Homo sapiens: one gene and its partner. The protein of the gene in region 1 purifies or fractionates together with the protein of each later gene. This does not show direct contact. Each region holds a gene or a part of one and is shown in the gene's direction. Other genes may lie near its edges. The genes, in order: DAGLB and HTR2C.

What was found.
Region 2: the proteins of DAGLB (region 1) and HTR2C purify together in Homo sapiens (co-immunoprecipitation; one large-scale study listed by IntAct). This does not show direct contact.

The regions. Positions count from the first base shown.
Region 1 is NC_000007.14:6,409,644-6,413,467, reverse strand, and holds part of DAGLB (diacylglycerol lipase-beta), read left to right. Parts: intron 1-433; coding exon 434-502; intron 503-584; coding exon 585-657; intron 658-3,087; coding exon 3,088-3,338; intron 3,339-3,432; coding exon 3,433-3,631; 3' UTR 3,632-3,824.
Region 2 is NC_000023.11:114,849,348-114,853,171, forward strand, and holds part of HTR2C (5-hydroxytryptamine receptor 2C isoform a precursor), read left to right. Parts: intron 1-3,824. UniProt on the Homo sapiens protein: G-protein coupled receptor for 5-hydroxytryptamine (serotonin).

The DNA.
Region 1 (3,824 bases):
TAGTAGAGACGGGCTTTTACCGTGTTAGCCAGGATGGTTTCAATCTCCTGACCTTGTGATCCGCCTGCCTCGGCCTCCCAAAGTGCTGGGATTACAGGCGTGAGCCACTGCACCCGGCCTCCAGTGCATCTTTGATGGAGTCTTCCAAGCGCGGTTTCTGGGTCAAAGGACAGATCCATGTGCTTGGTCCGCCTTGGTGTCCAGTTTGCGGTTTTAGCTGCGGGGCGTCTCTGTTGAACACATATTGTGGCTTTAGTAGGATCTGGCCAGTGAGTTGCCATAACTGACGTTTCCCCTACCCTCCCTTTAGAGAAGAGAGAACAGAGCTGAGGCCTGGGAACCTAACCCCTCAGTGTTACTGATTTCTTTCATGGAAGCCCTTGTGGGCAGTGTCATCGTAAAGCTAACATCCTCTCTCTGTTTGGAATTTCAGCAAAGCTCTGCAGGAATATTCTCAGAGCTTCATCGTGTCACTCGTCCTGGGGAAGGATGTGATTCCCAGGTAAGCCCACCTGGTGCTGTGCCCAGGGCTGGGGGGTTGGGAGTGCCAGGTCCCAGCCTCAGTGTGCCCCTTTGCTAAACAGGCTCAGTGTGACCAACTTGGAAGATCTGAAGAGAAGAATCTTGCGAGTGGTCGCGCACTGCAATAAACCCAAGGTAAGCGGGTGCCTTGTTGAGAGGGTCAGCAGGACACGGGGCCTGTCCCTGAGATCCTGTGGAGAGCCGGGAGGAATTGCACCCTCAGTGCAGGGCACTCTATGCTGTTGCTGGAAGTTCTCCTTCCACCATCTGATCAGATTCTGGGCTAGGACTCTGTGATGTCTAAGAAAGCAAATGGCTGCAGCAAGTGCGGGAAATGTCACAGGGAGGAAACAGGATCTGGGCTGGGAGCAGTGGTGTATGCCTGGAATCCCAGCACCTCAGGAGGCCAAGGCAGGAGGATCCCTTGAGGCCAACCTGGGCAACACAACAAGACCCTGTCTCTATTCTAAAAAAAAAAAAAGAAAAGAAAATACTCTGGAGGAACTGTTTGATTTTGCTTTCTGACAAACTTCTTAGTCCTGTCTTGTGACTAACAGTTTGTTAATGCCTTTTGGCTTTGTTGTCCGAAAGCTTAGAAAGCAAGGCTGCCAAATAGACCTTAAGAGGTACAGGCACATTTATCTACACTGTGGATATCATGCAGTTATTAAAATGGTGATATATGTCCACGTCAAGGGTTTTTTAACATGGTGGTAGAAATTTATGTCTGCTGGCCAGGCGCGGTGGGTCACGCTTGTAATCCCAGCCCTTTGGGAGGCTAAGGCAGGCAGATCACCTGAGTCAGGAGATCGAGACCAGAGTGGTCGACATGGCAAAACCCCGTCTCTAGTAAAAATACAAAAATGAGCCAGGGGTGGTGGTGAGTGCCTGTAATCCCAGCTACTTGGTAGGCTGAGGCAGAAGAATCGCTTGAACCCAGGAGGCCGAGGTTGCATAAGCCAAGATCGCACTCCAGCCTGTTGGATAGAGTGAGGCTCTGTCTCCAAAAAGAAGAAATTTCTGTCTGCCGATAAAGATAGATATCCATTGAAAAGTTCAAAAGAAAAAAAACTTAAAAATTATTCTTAAGAGATATGACTCATGGCAGAGAGTGGGGACAAGGAGATACAGATATATGAATTTTGACAAAAATTTGAAAATACGTATGCCAAGGGTGGTTTTGTTTAGTGTCGGTAGAGATGATTTTTACTTGTTTAATCCCTTTGTTTTCTGACCTTTCTCATGGTTTTGTTCCTAATCAGAAAGAAGAAACGCAATTTAAATTTTTCTCCTTACCAATTACCTCCCCCAGTTTTTTCTTTTTTGAGACAGGGTCTCGCTTTGTCACCCAGGCTGGAGTGCAGTGGCGCAGTCTCGGCACATTGCAGCCTCCCAAGTTCAACTGATCCTCCCACCTCAGCCTCCTGAGTAGCTGGGGCTACACTACAGGCATGCGCCAACACACCTGGCTAATTTTTGTATTTTTTGTAGAGACAGGGTCTTACCATGTTGCCCAGGCTGGTCTCAAACTTCGGGGCTGAAGCAATCTGCTTGCCTTGACCTCCCAAAGTGCTGGGATTACAGGTGTGAGCCACTGCTGTGCCCAGCCTAAAATTTTTTTTAGAAATTAGTATCTAGGGCGGGCCCGGTGGCTCACGCCTGTAATCCCAGCACTTTGGGAGGCTGAGGTGGGTGGATCACCTGAGGTCGGGAGTTCGAGACCAGCCTGACTAACATGGAGAAACCCCGTCTCTACTAAAAATACAAAAAATTAGGCCGGGCGCGGTGGCTCACGCCTGTAATCCCAGCACTTTGGGAGGCCAAGGCGGGTGGATCACGAGGTCAGGAGATAGAGACCACGGTGAAACCCCGTCTCTATTAAAAATACAAAAAATTAGCCGGGTGCGGTGGCGGGTGCCTGTAGTCCCAGCTACTCTGGTGGCTGAGGCAGGAGAATGGCGTGAACCCGGGAGGCGGAGCTTGCAGAGAGCCAAGATTGTGCCACTGCACTCCAGCCTGGGCAACAGAGTGAGACTCCGTCTCAAAAAAAAAAAAAAAAAAAAAATACAAAAAATTAGCCGGGCATGGTGGCAGGAGCCTGTAAGCCGAGCTACTCAGTAGGCTGAGGTAGGAGAATCGCTTGAATTCGGGAGGCAGATTGTGGAGCCAAGATCACGCCATTGCGCTCCAGCCCATAGAAATTAATATCTAATGCCTTTCAGGGAAGGAAGGGTAAAGCTGATTTCCAGAATTGCCGGAAAATAATTAAGGGAAATATCCCTCACAGTCTGTATGGCTTAGTTTTTAATATTGCTCCACGTGTGATGGTTTTACTGCCCAAGAGAGAGCCCACACTCATGATCTGTGACTAGGCATAGAGCCTTGTCCTGAGCCGAGGTGGCTGCCACCCAGCACAGCTCGCCGGTGCATCTTTGCTGGAGTCTTCCAAGCGGGGTTTCTGGGTCAAAGGGCAGATTCCTGTGCCTGGTCCGCCTTGGTGTTTCGGGAGGTCTCGGGTGACAGAGGGTGAGTGACAGCATTCTACTGATTGGGTCTCGCCCTCAGTACAAGATCTTGCTGCACGGTTTGTGGTACGAACTGTTTGGAGGAAACCCCAACAACTTGCCCACGGAGCTGGACGGGGGCGACCAGGAAGTCCTGACACAGCCTCTTCTGGGGGAGCAGAGCCTACTGACGCGCTGGTCCCCGGCCTACAGCTTCTCCAGCGACTCCCCACTGGACTCTTCTCCCAAGTACCCCCCTCTCTACCCTCCCGGCAGGATCATCCACCTGCAGGAGGAGGGCGCCTCGGGGCGGTGAGTGCGGCGTGGTGGGTGTGGTGGGCAGGCAGGAGCAGCGCGGGGTCAGCCCTGGGGCCGCGTGGGAGCTGTCTCTCCTTTTCTGCTTCAGGTTTGGCTGCTGCTCTGCTGCTCACTATAGCGCCAAGTGGTCACACGAAGCGGAATTCAGCAAAATACTCATAGGTCCGAAGATGCTCACCGACCACATGCCAGACATCCTGATGCGGGCCTTGGACAGCGTGGTCTCCGACAGAGCGGCCTGCGTCTCCTGTCCAGCACAAGGGGTCTCCAGTGTGGACGTGGCCTGACCAGGGCCACTGGAAACTGTCCCAGGAACGATGGACTCACGCTTTTGTCCTTAAACTGACTTACCATCCGAGGAGTTCCCATGACGCCAAAACAGCGAATGTCCATCAACAGGAATCGGATGGGAACAGAATTCCATGGTCTCAATGACTTAAGTTTATGGGAAGTCATTGTGGCCATAATGGTAGCAGAAGT
Region 2 (3,824 bases), on another chromosome or scaffold:
TGACTCTTGTGCTAAAGGCAAATAAACACATGGATAAAACACTAAAAGCCCTAAGAAGCTAATGAAATAGAAATTGCTATTGGCTAAGATCCAGAAAAAGACAAAAACCCAAGAAAAATGATTATGACTTCTAGTTCACTTTTGCCAATGATGCATTATAAACCTGAAGATATGACTGACAGGTGGAGACGATCATTTCAGACTCGCAAGCAATGGAGGACTAGAGTAGGAATACAGAGTCTGGCAAGGGCCAACCAACCTGAATTTAATTCTGGGATCACAAAAAAACCAGACACTAGGAATAAGGATCGACCAGGATTAAATCACCATAGACATGGAATTCAGCCCTGGTTCAAGTCATCTATGTAAATGAGAGAAATCTTGGGCCTTAAAATTGGATTAAGATGATTTCGTATTATTCAGGTTTCCAATTTTGGGGCATAAACAAACAAAAAAAACCCCATAATCCTAGATTTCAACTTATTTCTTTCAATAATTTTCAAATGCTGTCACTGAAATACAATGATATGCAGATATATGAGGAGACAATACAACATGAATCAGGTATGGGACAATAAGAGATAACAGAAATAAACTTACAAACACTTCAGATAATTGAATTATCAGACATACACTTTAAATAATCATTTGGAATGTGCACATGGAAATTACATGCTGATCTTAAACACTTCAGCAAGAAACTGCAAACTATAACAAATGACATTAAGATTTGAGAAACACCTAGAAAATATGGAACTTAAGCATAATATGAAAAACTAAGGGCCAGGCAGTGTCTTACACCTGTAATTCCAGCACTTTGGGAGGCCGATGCAGGCGGATCACTTGTGGCCAGGAGTTCAAGACTAGCCTGGACAACATGATGAAACCCCATCTCTACTAAAAATACAAAAATTAGCCAGGTATGGTAGCACACGCCTGTAATCCCAGCTACTTGGGAGGCTGTGGTGGGAGGATCACTTGACCCTCAGAGGTCAAGTCTGCAGTGAGCTGAGATCATGCCACTGCGCTCCAGCCTGGGCAACAGAGTGAGACTCTGTCACACACACAAAAAAAATTAATTAATTAAAAAATGAAAACCTAAGAACTCTGTGGCAGATTAGAGATGGCGAATTTCCAAATTTACAGAAGATTATTATAAAATATTAAAAATTAGCTGGGTATGGTGGCATGTGCCTGTAGCCCTAGCTACTCAGAAGGTTGAGGCAGGAGCATCACTTGAACTCAAGTGTCTTGAGGTTGCAGTGAGCTATGATCGTGCTATGACACTTCAGCCTTGATGAGAAAGCAACACTTTGTCTCTACAAATAAAAGATAAAATGAAATAATAAGATAAATCCAAAAGGAGTCAATAAAAGATAGAAAAATATAAAACGTATACTGAATGGCAGAATTAAAACCAAATATATCCCTAATTATATGAATTACTAAGGATTCTAAGACTGTCATATAGGCTTTCAAAAAAATAAGACAACTATATGTTACAAGAGGCATATATAAAGCATAAAGAAAGTAAAAGGATAAAAACAAACAAAAAAATTCCTCCATCTAAACACTATCCAAGAGAAAGACTGTATAGCTATATTAATATTTGTCAAAATAGACTTTTCGGCAAAAAACAAATACTCCAGTGAAAGAAGATTACTTACTATGAAAGATTTAATACATCTGGAAGACATAAGGTAATAAATTTGTATGTACATAATTATATGTAGATACATATGTAATATACATAGTATATACATTATAAAGTAAAAGAGGACAGAACTTCAGGGACAGATAGACAAGTCTACAATCATCGCATAAGATCTTAGCACATCCTTCTCAGCGATTGTATGAAAACAATTAACAAACCTGAACTCACTGACAAGTGAAGAATACATATTCCCATCATTGCACAAGAAATATTTATCAAAACTGACCATAAAGTAATTCCTCAACACATTCCAAAGGGTTGGAATAAATTGTTTATTCTTTGACTGAAATTCAAAAGAAATAGAAATGACTTCAAAATAGTAGAAAAACCTTCGTATATTTGGAAATTAAGAAATTGTTTCCCAATAAACTTTGACCTAATGGATTTCAAATCCATTGATGATTCTTCCCTAAGCTATCTATTACTAAGGTGATACAATGATAATTTTTCTCATTTTATTATTCTTCCTGCCTTTATTTGTTGGTATTATACTGTAAGGAAGTGTTTTCCCTCCAAGTCTTTGTTATTTATTAGTTCATGTTGGTGGAGACTCCTGGATTCTTTTGTATTCAGTGTAATATATATGATTCATTATTGCCCTTAATTATTTTGATGCTCAAATTGTCTCATATTTTTCTAATAAGAACTCCTTTTCATATATCCCATCAGCTTTTGAGCATTTGCCAGACTCACCTTTTACTTTCCATGCCCCAGTTCCGAAATTAGCCATTTCTTACAAGAAACCCTTTTAGTGGGCAATGGTTTTATAAAGCAGGATGCAGAAGCTCAGTATGCTCATTGCTAATAGGATATCATTGCTCCTATATATCAATACCTTTAATCCCAATTCACGAACACAGGACTCTTGCTACTTTCCAATTCTTTATTTTTCCTCATTTTTCTCACAGTGAGTAACTTTGTCCCCAAACCATTGATATATTTATTATTTATATTTTCTATATCCTACCATACAAGAAATTAATTTCAGAATTTCTATACCCATACCACTACCAATAAATGAAATGCAATGTTTAAAATTTCATTGCAATTTTATCTTTAGAATGTTTTCCACCAATGGCATATAGTCAAAGCATTGTCTTCAAAATGCTAGGATTAGTTTGAATTTTTTTTCTCTGTGGTTCTGATACCAATTGTTCACATTTAGGGATTTTGTTTTGTTTTTGCATGTATTCCCCAACCTTGTTGACTTTATTTTTTAATATGTAAAACTTTAATATGATGCTCCAACAGTCAAAACTAGGCAAATAAAATACTCAGAGAAGAGTCAGTTCCTCTTCTATTCCGTGGTTAACCCATTCATTAGTTTCTAGGGCATACTTCTTGAATTTATTTTTGCAAAAAAAAAAAAGATTATACACAAATACACGTATTGTTATTTTTCCATTCTTAAATTAAAAGTTAAAATGCTACATACAAATTAATACTTTGTTTTGCTTTGTTCTTTTACTTGGAAATATGTCCTGGAAATCACTCTATCAATTTGTAAGATGATAGATATGCACCCAACTTTATCATGTAAATGGCCTAAATACTCCAATTAAAAGCTAAATTCATTCTATTATTTTTTACACTCACTAATAATAGATTGTGTTGATATACTTTATTTAACCAATCTTCTGTGTATAATCAGGTAAGTTGTTTCCAACATTTGGAAGTTGCCAATAATTCTACTAAGAATAATTGTGTGTGTGTGTGTGTGTGTGTGTGTGTCCTTTGTGTGTGCGTGCGTGCATGTGTGTCTGTCTTGTGTGTTTGTGTGCGCGCGCGCGTGCATGTGTGTGTTTCATATTATTGGAAGTTTAACTTTTAAATAAATTCTTGCTCAAATGTATTCAGAATTTATCTTCTAAATAAATTCTTAGAGGAGGAGTTGATTGATCAAAGGGTACATGTAGTTAGGAGTTGAACCATTTTGCATTCCCACCAGCAATGCAAGAAAGCCTCTGTTTCCCCAAAGCCTTGCTAATGAAGTTTATTTTCAAACTTTTTAGATTTTGCAAATCCCATAAGTGAGAAATGTTACCTCAGTGTAATTTTAATTTGCATCTATTTTATTTGGCTGAAGTTCATATGATTAAATGTATGAAAA